4 linked regions of the Homo sapiens genome follow. The protein of the gene in region 3 purifies or fractionates together with the protein of the main gene of each other region. This does not show direct contact. Each region holds a gene or a part of one and is shown on either strand. Other genes may lie near its edges.

What was found. The genes of interacting proteins can lie anywhere in the genome.
Region 1: the proteins of KHDRBS2 (region 3) and PTER purify together in Homo sapiens (affinity purification with mass spectrometry; 2 studies listed by BioGRID and IntAct, with this or other methods). This does not show direct contact.
Region 2: the proteins of KHDRBS2 (region 3) and FBXO11 purify together in Homo sapiens (affinity purification with mass spectrometry; one large-scale study listed by BioGRID and IntAct). This does not show direct contact.
Region 4: the proteins of KHDRBS2 (region 3) and ACAD11 purify together in Homo sapiens (affinity purification with mass spectrometry; 2 studies listed by BioGRID and IntAct, with this or other methods). This does not show direct contact.

Annotation. Positions count from the first base shown.
Region 1 is NC_000010.11:16,482,010-16,485,509, forward strand, and holds part of PTER (N-acetyltaurine hydrolase), read left to right. Parts: intron 1-1,128; exon of another isoform or gene 1,129-1,925; coding exon of another isoform or gene 1,926-1,940; intron 1,941-2,327; coding exon of another isoform or gene 2,328-2,375; coding exon 2,376-2,807; intron 2,808-3,500. UniProt on the Homo sapiens protein: N-acetyltaurine hydrolase that regulates feeding by catalyzing the hydrolysis of N-acetyltaurine into taurine and acetate. N-acetyltaurine has anorexigenic and anti-obesity effects that are dependent on GFRAL receptor and GDF15.
Region 2 is NC_000002.12:47,829,999-47,833,498, reverse strand, and holds part of FBXO11 (F-box only protein 11), read left to right. Parts: intron 1-428; coding exon 429-535; intron 536-618; coding exon 619-730; intron 731-820; coding exon 821-927; intron 928-1,012; coding exon 1,013-1,150; intron 1,151-3,500. UniProt on the Homo sapiens protein: Substrate recognition component of a SCF (SKP1-CUL1-F-box protein) E3 ubiquitin-protein ligase complex which mediates the ubiquitination and subsequent proteasomal degradation of target proteins, such as DTL/CDT2, BCL6, SNAI1 and PRDM1/BLIMP1.
Region 3 is NC_000006.12:61,978,726-61,982,225, forward strand, and holds part of KHDRBS2 (KH domain-containing, RNA-binding, signal transduction-associated protein 2), read right to left. Parts: intron 1-3,500. UniProt on the Homo sapiens protein: RNA-binding protein that plays a role in the regulation of alternative splicing and influences mRNA splice site selection and exon inclusion. Binds both poly(A) and poly(U) homopolymers. Phosphorylation by PTK6 inhibits its RNA-binding ability.
Region 4 is NC_000003.12:132,649,810-132,653,309, reverse strand, and holds part of ACAD11 (acyl-CoA dehydrogenase family member 11), read left to right. Parts: intron 1-3,500. UniProt on the Homo sapiens protein: Acyl-CoA dehydrogenase, that exhibits maximal activity towards saturated C22-CoA.

The DNA.
Region 1 (3,500 bases), on a different chromosome or scaffold from region 3:
CTGGCAGCTGTGTGGTGATTCTCTGAAGAGACACTGCCTGCTTTTCTCTTAGCCACCATTTGAATTGCCTAGCTGATAGAAGTTTGGCTTCCAGAAAGGCACTATCAAACAAAATCAATGGCCATGTTAGCCACAAGTCCTAAGTTCTGTCCAAAAGTCTAAATCCATCATTTATGCCTTATAAGCCAATATATCGCAAACACCTGAGTTCCAGATAATTGCAGTGGCTTGCTATAAATTGGCCTACAATTCTGTCACCCTCTGACCTCTGATGTTGTTTTCACCTTGTCTTACGTGTGTACTATACCCTTCACAAATTTTCCCCTTTGTTCCCCCAAATCATCTCCCCTCTCATCAGCCACTTTCTCTGAAAAGAAATAATCTAGGATATACGTGAATAGTTCCTAGAATTCGCAAAACAAAGCTACTATTTGTTGAATATGGTCTGCGTGCCAAATGCATCTACAGGTATTTTTACCTGTGGTATCTAATTTATTTTTACGACAGTCTATGAAATGTGCTTCGTTATTTTAATTTACAGATGACAAAAATGGAAGTCAAAGAAGGCTTTCAAGGGATATGGGGGAAATGATGACTTCAGAACACTATTTGAAGGAACAGTTTGAGAGCTTGGAAACACGTGATGCTCCTTTTCTTCAGTTCCCAGAGTCTGGGACTCGAGTCCTGATTTTGCTCTTGGCCATGCAGGAGTTTGTCCTCACTATTTTCAGTAGCTCTTGTTCCTTTATAAACCCTTCATTTAGGAAATGTACTTAAAATTTTTTTTTTTGAGACATAATCTCGCTCTGTTTCCCAGGCTGGAGTGCAGTGGCGCGATCTCGGCTCACTGCAACCTCCGCCTCCTGGGTTCAAGCAATTCTTCTGCCTCAGCCTCCCAAGTAGCTAGGATTACAGGCACGCTCCACCACACTTGGCAAATTTTTGTATTTTTAGTAGAGACGGGTTTTCACCATGTTGGCCAGGCTGGTCTCAAACTCCTGGCCTTATGTGATCTTCCCACCTCAGCCTCCCAAAAGTGCTGGGATTATAGGCATGAGCCACTGCACCTGGCCATTTAATTTTTAATTTAAACAAATTTTTTAAAAGGAAATGTACTTTTAAAGGAAAGTACTGGAATTGGAGTTCTTGGTATCACTGATAGACATTGGTGAACACTTAATTTGTGCTACAAATGAAAGCAAATCGAGGATAGAGAGGGCTTTGCTCTTTTTAGAGATAGCCGATTTCAGTTTCAATAAATCACAATCGCTTTCATTATGGCTAAGAATCTTTGCTTTTCAGTATTTTTGAAGTGTGTTTCTGTGTGCCCTAGACAATCAAGCATTCAACCTGAAGAGGTTCGTTTCTTGTTGTTATTTCATTATTCAACCGAGTGTGCTCCTCAGTTGTTTTGGGGAGGGGCATATTCTATGAAGTCGTGTGAGTCAGAGATCTTGTCTTTTGTTTCTTTATGGCTCTAATTTCTGACACATCATGGACCTTCAACAGAAATTTGTTTGCTTGGGTAGTGGAGGAACAGTAGAAAGATCAGTTGTGGCCACGAGTGATGGTTCACACCTGTAATCCAGGCACTTTGGGAGGCCGAGGCAGGCAGATCACCTGAGGTCAGGAGTTCAAGACCAGCCTGGCCAACATAGGGAAACCCCATCTCCTAAAAATGCAAAAATTAGCCAGGCTTGGTGACACATGCGTGTAGTCCCAGCTACTCAGGAGGCTGGGGCAGGAAAATCCCTTGAACCCAGGAGGCGGAGGCGGAAGTTGCAGTGAGCTGAGATCGTACCACTGCACTCTAACCTGGGCAACAGAGCAAGACTCTCCCTCAAAAAGAAAAAAAAGGAGGAAAGATCAGTTGCTTCAGGATATTTAATTTAGCTAAAAAGTGACAAATGAAACAGTACTGATACATGGTTAGTTTGGATGTAAGTTATTGATTCTGAATACTTTTTTTTAATTACAATTACTGTTGATTTATCCAAGAATGCATAGCTATGATTAAGAGATACAATTAAGTTAAAGAAAAGTGAACTGAATATCAAAGAATATTTCCAGTAGATAAGGTTAGGACTAACTCAGGCAGAGGACTCCCAGTAGAAGGGGTGGGAGGCAATTAACACCACGCACGTCACTTAGATCTGCAGTGGGGATAGATTCTGAAGTCGGCAGGATTGTGAGATCGTATCTCTAGTTTTATTGATTTGCCTTCTTACATGGGTATATGTTCACAGCCTCCCACCCCTTACGGACAAGAGTTTATGTGTGTGTTAAATATTCTGATTGTAGTTGTTTGTTTGTTTGTTTGTTTTTAGAAAAAAGAAATCCTCTTTTTAGAACATCTCTTGGTGGTACCATCAGAAATGTCTTCCTTAAGTGGAAAAGTCCAAACCGTTTTGGGCCTTGTAGAGCCAAGCAAACTGGGCCGTACCCTGACCCATGAACACCTGGCCATGACCTTTGACTGCTGTTACTGTCCACCTCCCCCGTGCCAGGAAGCTATTTCCAAAGAACCTATCGTGATGAAAAATTTATATTGGATTCAGAAAAACGCCTATTCCCATAAAGAAAACCTTCAATTAAATCAGGAGACAGAAGCCATAAAGGAAGAACTGTTGTATTTTAAAGCTAATGGTGGAGGGGCTTTGGTGGAAAACACAACCACTGGGATTAGCCGAGACACACAGACGTTGAAGAGGCTTGCAGAAGAGACTGGCGTCCATATCATATCTGGAGCCGGGTTTTATGTGGATGCAACTCACTCCTCAGAGACCAGGGCCATGTCAGTGGAGCAGGTAAAAAGCCTAAGTTCTTTGACAGTATTTGTTCATAAATTCAGAACAGCCAGAACCTTGGAAATGCCCTGGGTTCAGAGGTAGCTGGGCATGCTACGGAAATTTGCTAGCTAGCAAAGACATCTGCCAGTTGGGGCCCCAGTTAGTAACACTGTATTTCATAAAGAAAGTGCCAATTTTGCAAGCAAGCCTTGTGGTAAAGAAAAAAGAAAATAATAATAATAAGTGTCAAGGAAAGAGATCTTAGTGCACTGGTCATTGCAAAATCCAACGTGATAATAGTTAGATTTGTGTGTATCGTATCTGTCCTCAGTATTGGCACCACAGTCTATTTGTAAACCTCACTTTTCCATCTTAAGTTATGCTACCTCGATTTTTTTTCACCCTGGATTTTATAATAACCAGCAATGAAGATTCACTGTAGGGTGAAACTTGGCAGTCAAAGACTTGGCACATTTGTGAATATGTTTCAGTTTCCTTTCACAAAACAGGAGAGGTGGAAGAAAATTCATTCCCCTGTGTTTTGTCATAATATGGTCTTAAGAATGGGCAGAAGGAAGTAAATTGTTTAGGGACAAAAAGAATAAGGTGCAAAACCTTTTTTGCACGTGTATGTGTTCTCTTTCTAAACACACATGTATCTATTTATACATGTTTACACATATATGTATATATTCGTATGTATCTTCCATT
Region 2 (3,500 bases), on a different chromosome or scaffold from region 3:
GAAGATGGGGAGAATAGATTAGAGCAAATGTTTGTCTGGTGATTTTATTACTTTCTAAATCGAGGCCACTGTTGGAAATAAATTTAAATAGAGGTCTCTTCTCTTCTTGAGCTTCTGTTTCCAGTGCTGCTGCTGGAAACAGAATGGTTTCCACAAGAAACCATTTTTTGTTTTTGTTTCCACAAGAAACCATTTTTTAATATGCCGTTGCATTTTATATTCATAGTATTTATAGTTAAATGTTATTAGAAGTAATACTGTGCATGGATTTGAATATAGCAAAGGCTGATGATGAAACATAGTTAACTGATAGTGAATATTAGTCCCACTACTCAGTACTAATGTTTTTAGTAAGTTCCCCCTCCATAAAGATACCCATCTGTTGAAATCGAATAAAGGTAATATTCTTTAAAATATCTTCTCCACAGCACCTGGGAAAGTGGCAGACAAAGTTATAATTGAAAACACTAGAGATTCAACCTTCGTTTTTATGGAAGGCTCTGAAGATGCTTATGTTGGATATATGACAATAAGGGTAAGACATGTTAAGATTTAAAATACACATTGAAATCATAAAGGCAGTAATTGTTTATTTCAAACAAAATTTTTACTTTTCAGTTTAACCCTGATGACAAATCTGCACAACACCACAATGCACACCACTGCTTAGAGATTACAGTAAATTGTAGCCCTATTATTGATCACTGTATCATCCGAAGTACATGTACAGGTTAGTGTTTTCTTTATATTTTACAATAAAATTTTGAGTCACTGTATGTTGCCCAGTAGGTTTTTACATAAATAAATAATTTTTCTACAGTTGGTTCTGCAGTATGTGTTAGTGGTCAAGGAGCATGTCCCACCATCAAGCACTGTAACATCAGTGACTGTGAAAATGTTGGACTATATATAACAGATCATGCACAGGTATTTTTTAATTTTGTGTGGTTTTTTTCTTTTTAGAAAATGTTTAAAAGCTCTACTGATGTTTGTTTCTGATAACTTGTTGTAGGGAATATATGAGGATAATGAAATTTCCAATAATGCGTTAGCTGGGATTTGGGTTAAAAATCATGGAAACCCAATTATTAGACGGAATCATATTCATCATGGACGTGATGTTGGTGTGTTCACATTTGATCATGGCATGGTAAGAACACTTATTTTTAATAGAAAAACGGACTTCTGTATCAGTTAAATTCCAAGTATGTTTCAGCATTATTTTCTCATCACCAAATTATCTGAATTGAAGAGTATAGGTTTAAAAGCAATTTCAGCATTATTTTTTAAAATTAATATGAAATATTTATTCTGTAAATTTATGCATCAGACATATCCATGTAGAGGTGATAGCGTTCTTAGGCAATATATGTGATCTTTGAGGGGAGTAAGGTATAACTCGTTAATTAAGTCTCAAATGTGTGTTCATAAAAGCCACCCAAAAGCTTTCTGTTTTAAAGAAAATTCCTGTATCCTCCAGTTTAATAAATCAAAATTTCCAAGGATGGGGCTTAGAATATGTATTTTTAATAAACAACATAAGTGAATCTAACACAGTTTGTAGAGTATACTTTGAGAAATAATGGTTTCATTGTTATTTTGCTTTTCATTTAATTCCTCTTGAAAATTTTAAACTGGCAGAACTTTAATAGGAGATACATTGATAAAATACCAATTTTAAAACCATTATGCAGCAGTTAATATTAGGCATCCTTATGGAATATACTGTGTTTTAAGTATTACCTTATAGTTTTACATAATTTTCTAGAGACATGACTTTTTGAGCTCTGAGATCACCATTTCAAAATAATGTTTTGAATGTCTTTTCAGATTTTTTTTCATTTAATGTCAAATTTTCCTTGAGGTAATTTTCAAGTCCTAATACAGCATTGGTAAAATTTTTTGTTGCGGAGTCCAAGATGGGAGAGAGGGTCACCACATTGTAGCAAATAGGATTATGGTGAGGTTTTGTTGCCTATTATACAATATTAAGCAATCCTGGGAATGTTGGATTCATCTATACAAAGAAATTTTTTTATTTTCATTTTTCTTTTTTTTTTTTTTTTTTTTTCTTTTTGAGACCGAGTTTCACCCTTGTTGCCCAGGCTAGAGTGCAATGGCAATGGTGTGATCTTGGCTCACTGCAACCTCCACCTCCTGGTTCAAGCGATTCTCATGTCTCAGCCTTCCAAGTAGCTGGGATTACAGGCATGCACCACCACGCCTGCCTAATTTTGTATTTTTAGTAGAAACAGGGTTTCACCATGTTGGTCAGGCTGGGCTTGAACTCCTGGCCTCAAGTGATTCACCTGCCTCGGCCTCCCAAAGTCCTGGGATTACAGGCATGAGCCACTGCGCCTGGCCAAGGCAGAGCTCTTTTTTTAAACTAAACTAGACCATGGCCGGGTGCAGTGGCTCACACCTGTAATCCCAGCACTTTGGGAGGCCAAGGCAGTTGGATCGCTTGGGCTCAGGAGTTCAAAACCAGCCTGGACAACATGGTGAAACTCTGTCTCTACAAAAAATACAAAAATTAGCTGGGCATGGTGGCTCACACCTGTAGTCCCAGCTACTTGGGGGCTGAGACAGGAGGATCACTTGAGCCCAGGAGACGGAGGTTGCAGTGAGCCAAGATGTAAGATGTGTGCCTTTGCATGGGATTTCAGGCGTGAGCCACCACACCTGGCCAAGTTCATCATTTTTGAAAGACCTCTGGTGATGGGATGGTCCCTTATTAAAGTTCACCATAGTAAGTTACTCCTCATCACACACACACTCCTTATACCATTTTAAAGAATAGATTTGGGCTTGTAAATATCACAGCATTTTTAAAAATAAGTCTAGACAATGCTATAGATAGATATTTCCATTAAGGATTAATGAGATTTATACATTTTAAGATTTATAAAGTATTTCAATCTATCTCCACCCCATCATTTTTATTTTTATTTTGCAAAGGTTTAAAATATTTGCATTCCTACAGTTATTGGTCTATATTTATTCTTTATTTATTTATCATTAGTTCTTTTATCATCGTTTCTCCATTCTTGAATTTAAATTTTGATTCATTCTTGGTATGGCTAGGTTTTGTCATCCAGCCATTTTTTGTTTGTTTTTTTTAAAGAACGCCTTATGGATATTGTAGCTTGAATTCTTGCCATGCGAGAATCCCTATCCATTGCCTTTTAACTTAGCTGAGTTTCTTTCTTTCCCTCACGATTCTGTAGACATTTTTCTATTGTAGCATTGAGCATGGCTGAGAACTCTGAGATCACATTGGGTTTTTTTCTTTCTTCTTTGCTTGAAAGATTGCTCTTCTACCTCAGTATCCATATTTTGGCTTTTGCTGATGTATTGTTTTACTATTTTTCTGTTCCATATGTTCCTTTCTTTAGAAACTTAGCTATCTTTCTGGTTATTTATATTGCTATGTTCTGTTCTGTTTAGTGTTGTGTGAGTTCCTCAAATCTGTGTTCCTTACCATGTCTCCGTGGTTTTGT
Region 3 (3,500 bases):
CCAGCCCAGATTATCAGCAAGCCTTATACCCACAGCTTTTCTATCGCTTGCTGCCTTTATTTATTTATTTTGTCAACAGGGGAATATTAAAGGGTGGTTTAACATTTTGCTGGCATTGATTCTGCATGGGCTACGTAACTTCTGGTTAACCAATAATACTAGGTTGGTGGAAAAGCAATTGCCATTAATTGCTTTTAATGGCATTATTTTTAATGGCAAAAACCATAATTGCTTTTGCACCAACCTAATACATTTCTATTGGAAGAGACTTTTCCTAGTATTGTGCCCAAGCCATTATTGAAACCTGGTTAATTCAGTGCAGGTGTACAGCAAATCAATATGTGATCCATATATTTTGTTAATGTATACTAAGTATTTTATACATATCATCTCTAATCAAAATCATTTTGTACATATTCACATGTTTCAGATTATGAAACTGTGGTTAGAAGACTTAAATAGCTTCAGCCAATTCAGATCCAGACCCAGTTCATTTTGCAAGCAGATTTGCATTTTTTAGAATTTCAAGATGTAAAATGTGGCAGAAAAGTTAACATAAATAACATTAATTATGTTTTATCTTTCTTGTCCCTCACAGAAACAACCAGCAGCTACTTCACTAAATTTCAAAAAATAAAACTAAACATGTAATTCTTGGTTTTATGTAGAGATTAGAGACATGACATGAATAGACCTTACCTGGATTTAAAAAAGAACAAATTTGCTGTTGATGTCATGTGAGTTAACTGTATAACCCATGTTAATGTGAGTGTTTACTTGATTAGAAATGCTCATTGTTTTAAAAGATGAAGGATCCATGAAAGAGATGGGAAGGCATCCCTGCGTTCCTGTATATATACCCTTCACCTACTCAAATACTTCTGATAATAGCACCTTGCAGCCTGGAAATCCATTCTTCACTTCTCTAAGGATACTTTCAAACTCTACCTAGGACTTTTCAACTTGAGAGCTTTTCTTAGTGCCCAATTATCAGTTTGGGGAGGAGAGGCAACACTACACTGAATGAAAATACTCTCATGAGGTGTAGTAAAGATTTCTTTTCTCTTTGGGTCCTGCTAAGGTGCAAGCTGCTTGTTTATTCTGGGGCCAGCTGGTTTGGGCATACATGCTGAAATAATTAAATCAGAGATTTCTTGACACTGTCCCTTTCTATTACTTCCTATGTTGATTCCCATTCAGTTATTTTTGTGTTACCCTCTCCTTACACCTAGAATTTCCTAGGGAACTGAAATAATTTTCAACTCTATTAAGCAAAATAATATGGTCATTGAGTGACATTTCCTAGAGTGACATGACTAGCTCATTATGGAGCTCAATAAAATAAAGAAAACAGCAGTTAATTGACCCTACTCTCCTTGGAAGATCATCATTTGCTACTTGGGATGACCCTTCGGAATCACATCTTCCATAAGCAGTGTATCCAATAATTTTATAAACCCATACTGCTCTTTGTAGGAAGATTATTGTGCAGGAAAGTGATCTAAGTTGTCAAGTTAAGAATAGTAGCTACCTGCTTTTTGTATTTTTATGAAGAATATATCATAAATTGTTCATAATCTAATGTGGAACACATATTCCTCCTTTGTTCTACTCCAGGTGCTGGTATTTTGCCCTTCTAGATCCTCCTGTGAGGCATCACACCATCACCACCACCACCAGAAAAATAACTCCTGAAAGTTTAGAATGTTAGTGGGAAATAACTCTTATATTGCATTGATATGAAAAATTGTAGAAGTTTTATAGAAAATAAGTCTTATGTTGCCTGGTCAAAGCTGGCTACATTTGAATGGGTTTCTTTATAAAAATTTGTTTTAATAGACTTGTGATCTGAGGGATCAAAATTGATGCCCATTTATCAAACAAGATGGGCCTAAGGCTAAGGAAACAAAAGTTACTTAGGAGTCCAGTGTTCAGGACCCAGATGGCATGGCAAATTTCCAAATTCCTACCACTATAAGGAAAACTACACCTCAGCTAAACTTCTTAACAACAGAGCTCTCAGGCTGATTTACAGCCCAAACCACCACAACTCTGCAGGACAGAGGACTGACTTTACAAATATTCTTTTCTGATTAGCTATTGCAGAACTTAAGCCAGTTTCAGCCAGCTTATAGGGACTGCACACAAACTGTCTTTGTGTACTACAGTTCACCTTTTGACATAAAGAGCTGAATTCCATGTCATTTCAATGCTAAAACCTCACGTCAGAGTGAACATGGGATGTATGTTATACACATGTTTACCCACTGGGCATGCCCTCTCATAAATACATATAGCTTTTCCCCCAAAACATGCTGAATATGTATAATACAGGCCCTGTGAGGCATAAGACCTAACCTGTCATTCCCTTCTTTAAATAAAGAGCACCTTAGATCCACACTGGAGAGTTTCTCTTCTCAATTTGCAAGTTAATGCCAATAAAGCTCTCCTTTCTACTATTTAGCCATCCTGGTGGTCTTTCAAATGACAAAATGTATATCAAAAGATTACTGATTCAAAACTAGAGTTTGGTTTTTCTCTGTTAAAACAACAAAGTTTTCTTGGATTACTGGTCTGCCCTTAATAAGAAATTATAAAACTTTTTCTTTACCTGTTAAGTAATCTGCCTAGAAAACATTCTGTGTCTTATCAGAATAATTTCCTACGCTTTATGTTAACATTTATCACATCTTTAATTATTTATGAGAACCAAGTCCTCTCACTTAAAAAAAAAAAACTGAGTTTTTTTTTAATTTATTTGTTTGTTGTTGCTGTTTTTCTCTCTGCAAGTATGTTACCTCGTATACTTACTTTTGAAATCTTGTATTGTCACTTAAGTAAGTGGATAACTAAAGTATTGTTTCACAGTGACCTGTGATCCTATTTAATGCAGTGTTCAATCTTTTGACATTTTTGACAATTTGCAAAAATCAAATTCTAAATGAAGTCTGCTTGACCCCAAACCAACTTAGATTTTTCAGAGAGCCCCTGGAAAATCTCTAAGGATTCATGTTCTCTCACTTTGTAAAAAGAGAGATGTTAAACTAATTAGGTTCATTTGATATGTTAAAATGTATGGGAAGCATTGTCAAATAAGAAGAGTTACTTAAATTTCCTTATATTTGTATGGGTAGATTTTATTGTTTCAGAAATTTTATGAAGTTCCTAGGAATTGGTCAATAACCTTGATCTCCCTGATACGTCCTGGTATAATGTAGTCAGTCATAATTCTATGATTTAAATTCCATAAATTAAATATTGTATTCCACAGAAACCACCAAAATCCTTTGTCAACTGTGTTATAATGAATTCACGTCAGATATTTAACATAGCCATTTTAAGCTTTTTGTCATTCATAGGTAGTTACTATTAATACCAAACTAAGAAGCAAATGCTCCACTCAGATGTGGCTGATGACAACAGTGTCAAATTCTTGTGAATTATGTAATTTACCCTAGGTAATGTGATGAAGAAATAAAGTCACTGCAAATATATATATA
Region 4 (3,500 bases), on a different chromosome or scaffold from region 3:
TCGTTGAAATAGGAACCTAGGTAATTAATTAGCTGAGAATGAAGATGGAGAAGAAAGTGTTTGAGGTTTGAGGAGAGAGAATTATGAAACAGCCATCCAAGAGAATGGGAGAATAAATGAGCTAAGGAAATATGATTGCCAGATGTGGTTCACTTTGAGGTTTGCTGAGGTCATGAATTTGAAGCAAGAATAGATATTTCAGTAGATATTACTAATGCTTTGTCCAGATCCTCTTGGATCCCTTTCTAGTGTTGCTGTACATGTCCTGCCTTTGTTGGTTTTTGCTTCCAATAAACAGCATCTATGCCTCTTTTTTTGGTAAACTGCCCTCAGGCTATTGGAGCACCCTTTGCTCTTACTGTTGTAGTACCTGAGGTGGACCTTAACCAATAGTGATTCAGAAGTATGAAATTTTCATTATCCTTGCTTCAGAGACATGTTTTGAACTTTGACACGGCAGAGTTCCCCCATTACCTTTACCCCCACCTACACACTGGTGAGATCAGGCTGAAGCTACCCTCTAAGGGACTTTGTCTTAGATCACACCTTTGCTTAGCTTTCTCCCCTTTCTTGACCTGCTTCCCCAAATTTCTTATTAGTTCCCCAAACATTTCCTTAATAAGTCACTTGTATATAATTTTTTTTCTCATGATCTGTTTATTGGGAACCTAACCTAAAACAGTAATTATGACTGTATGTGTCTTTCTTCAGCTATGGCCAGTTATATCAGTGTAAGCAAAAAAAAAATGGATTTAACATGGATGGGAGTTTTGCCAAGCAAACACCATGAAGTGAGGAAAGGGCAAGTGAAGTATACTGAAGGTGTATTCAAGGTAGTGGTTATATGATTTGCTATCAAATTTAACCTAGTTAAGGAAAGATTTATTAGTCTGTTCTCATATTGCTAATAAAGACATACCCGAGACTGGGTAATTTATAAAGGAAAGAGGTTTAATGGACTCACAGTTCCACATGGCTGGGGAGTCCTCACAATCATGGCAGAAGACAAAGGAAAAGCAAAGGGATGTCTTACATGAAGTCAGGCAAGAGAGAATGTGTACAGGGGAACTCTCCATTATAAAACCATCAGATCTCATGAGACTTATTCACCATCATGAGAACAGCACAGGAAAGACCCACTGCCATTATTCAATTACCTCCTACCAGGTCTCACCCATGATACATGGGAATTGGGAATTATGGGAGCTACAATTCAAGATAAGATTTGGGTGGGGACACAGCCAAACCATATCATTCCACCCCTGACCCTTCCCAAACGTCATGTCCTCATATTTTAAAATGAATCATGCCTTCTGACAGTCCCCCAAAGTCTTATTTCAGCATTAACTCAAAAGTCCACCGTCCAAAGTCTCATCTGAGACAAGGTAAGTCCCTTCTGCCTATGAGCCTGTAAAATCAAAAGCAAGCTAGTTACTTCCTAGATACAATGGGGGTACAGGCATTAGGTAAATATACCTGTTCCAAATGAGAGAAATTGTCCAAAATAAAAGGGGCTACAGGCCCCATGCAAGTCCAAAATCCAGTGGGACAGTCTTAAAGTTCTAAAATGATATCCTTTGACTCCATGTTCACATCCAGGTCACAGTGATGCAAGAGGTGGGCTCCCACAGTCTTGGGCAAAGGATATGGTCGGGGGATATGAGGTGAATGGCAGTATGATCAATGGATGGTAGGTCAAGTATTGATTGAAGGATTGTTGGAATTGAGGCACTAGCAGGAGTGAGTGGAAAGGTAGGAGGTTAGAGGTAGAAATGTTTAGAAACTAGGATTATTCAGTGCTTTTACTGTTGATATTGCTAAAGTGTAGGGTGTAACTCCTAGAATTACTGGCTGAGATAGTGTCAAGGAAAATATCACTGGTGGAGAAAATTCAAGGAACTGATGGGCCTAAATGTTAAAAGGGACATCTGTGTAGATTTTGAAATCAGTAATTAAGACAGGAGTAGTGTTAATGAGAGTAATAGTGAATTATGCCAAGATCCTTAAGAAATGAGGAGAAATGATCTGAGAGTTAGTAGGTGACTGCAAGAAAAAGGGGTAGAGGGTGGCAGAGTCTCATGGCCTGAGATTCAAAGCTGAGGGAAGAATTTACACAGGAGGGAGAGCAAAGAGTCTGGAAGTAGCAATGAGTTTCAGGAAGGATACAGACTCCATCCAGGCTTACTAGAAGACTGATGTGGGAAAAACATCTACCACTTAAGAAGCCTACAAAGGAAACAGGATCCTCATGGAATATTCAGGTTTTAGTTAGAGCAAGGAGGTGAAGGGTCTATTCAGAGAAGATATTGAAGCTGTATGGAATTGTGAAAGACTGTGAGTTCCAGGGGCACAGTGGAAGGATATCAGGAGTTGAGGGGGTGGAGAAGATGTGGGAGAAAATAGGGAATGTGCAGAGCCTTATGGGAATTACAATGCAGTAAACAAGTATAAAAGGGGAATTTGGGACTTCTGGTATTGATGATATAAAGAGGGATAAAGAACACAATGAAACCAGTTCCGGTGGTCTCAAGGTAGTAGTGCTGTCAGTGATAGGAAATGGGAAGTTGTAGGTATGTATTGGGGCTGGGGAGGGACAGTCTTACACTAAGTTAAGTAGTCTGGACTCACTGTTTTTCTTATTTTTTTAGTGATGCCAACTTTAAAAGCCTTTGTCCTCTATCATGAATTGTACTTTCTACCTATTTATCATGTGGATAAAGTGCAACTGTATTTCCTTACCCTGTGTATATTCAGATATTCAAAATGTCTAATAATATATGAAATAGCAGCCCAAGTATGATTTTTTAAAAAAACTGTCACTAAACTGACTTCCTACAAATCAGAGTAGGATTTCATGACTGTGTGTTCATGTTCAAACTTCATGTTGAGTTTTGGTTGCCTTATTCTGTTTCTGTAGTCATGGTTCCAGAAGACACACCTCTAGAGGATGGGCAACCACTTCTAGGGAAGTCCCTAGCAAAGCACCTAGCATGGTGCTAGCTCTGTTACACTGTGATAACGGCAGGGTTTTTACCCTCTCCAGCTCTTTTGGCTGATGTTAAATTCTTCCTTCTCAGTAATGAGATTCTTGACCAGTCATTGATGACTCCATTGCACTTGTCAGGAGTCTTGTGTTTGACTTCATCTTTGATTCTGCTTTGCCGTCTCTCATTTTTCACTGTGGCCTATTGAATACATAGGATCTGAGCAACTTCTTACAAGAAACTCTGTCTCTTTGTTTCTCGTTTTCCAGCTTTGTACTTCTATGCCTCTTGGACCAAATACTCAGTGTTTCCATGGGCAAACACTGGGTCATTTGTCTTTTAATCTTCTTTTTTCCTGATCTCTTATCAACAGCAAACACATTTGAGATGCTGTTGGCATCAATATAAAAAGTTATTTAAATTTGTGGAAATCCAAAGGGTTTAGGAGGAATGCCCGTGAGTTCAAATTTGCCGGGCTGGTTGTTATCCTTCATCATTGCTCACTCAATTTTGTAA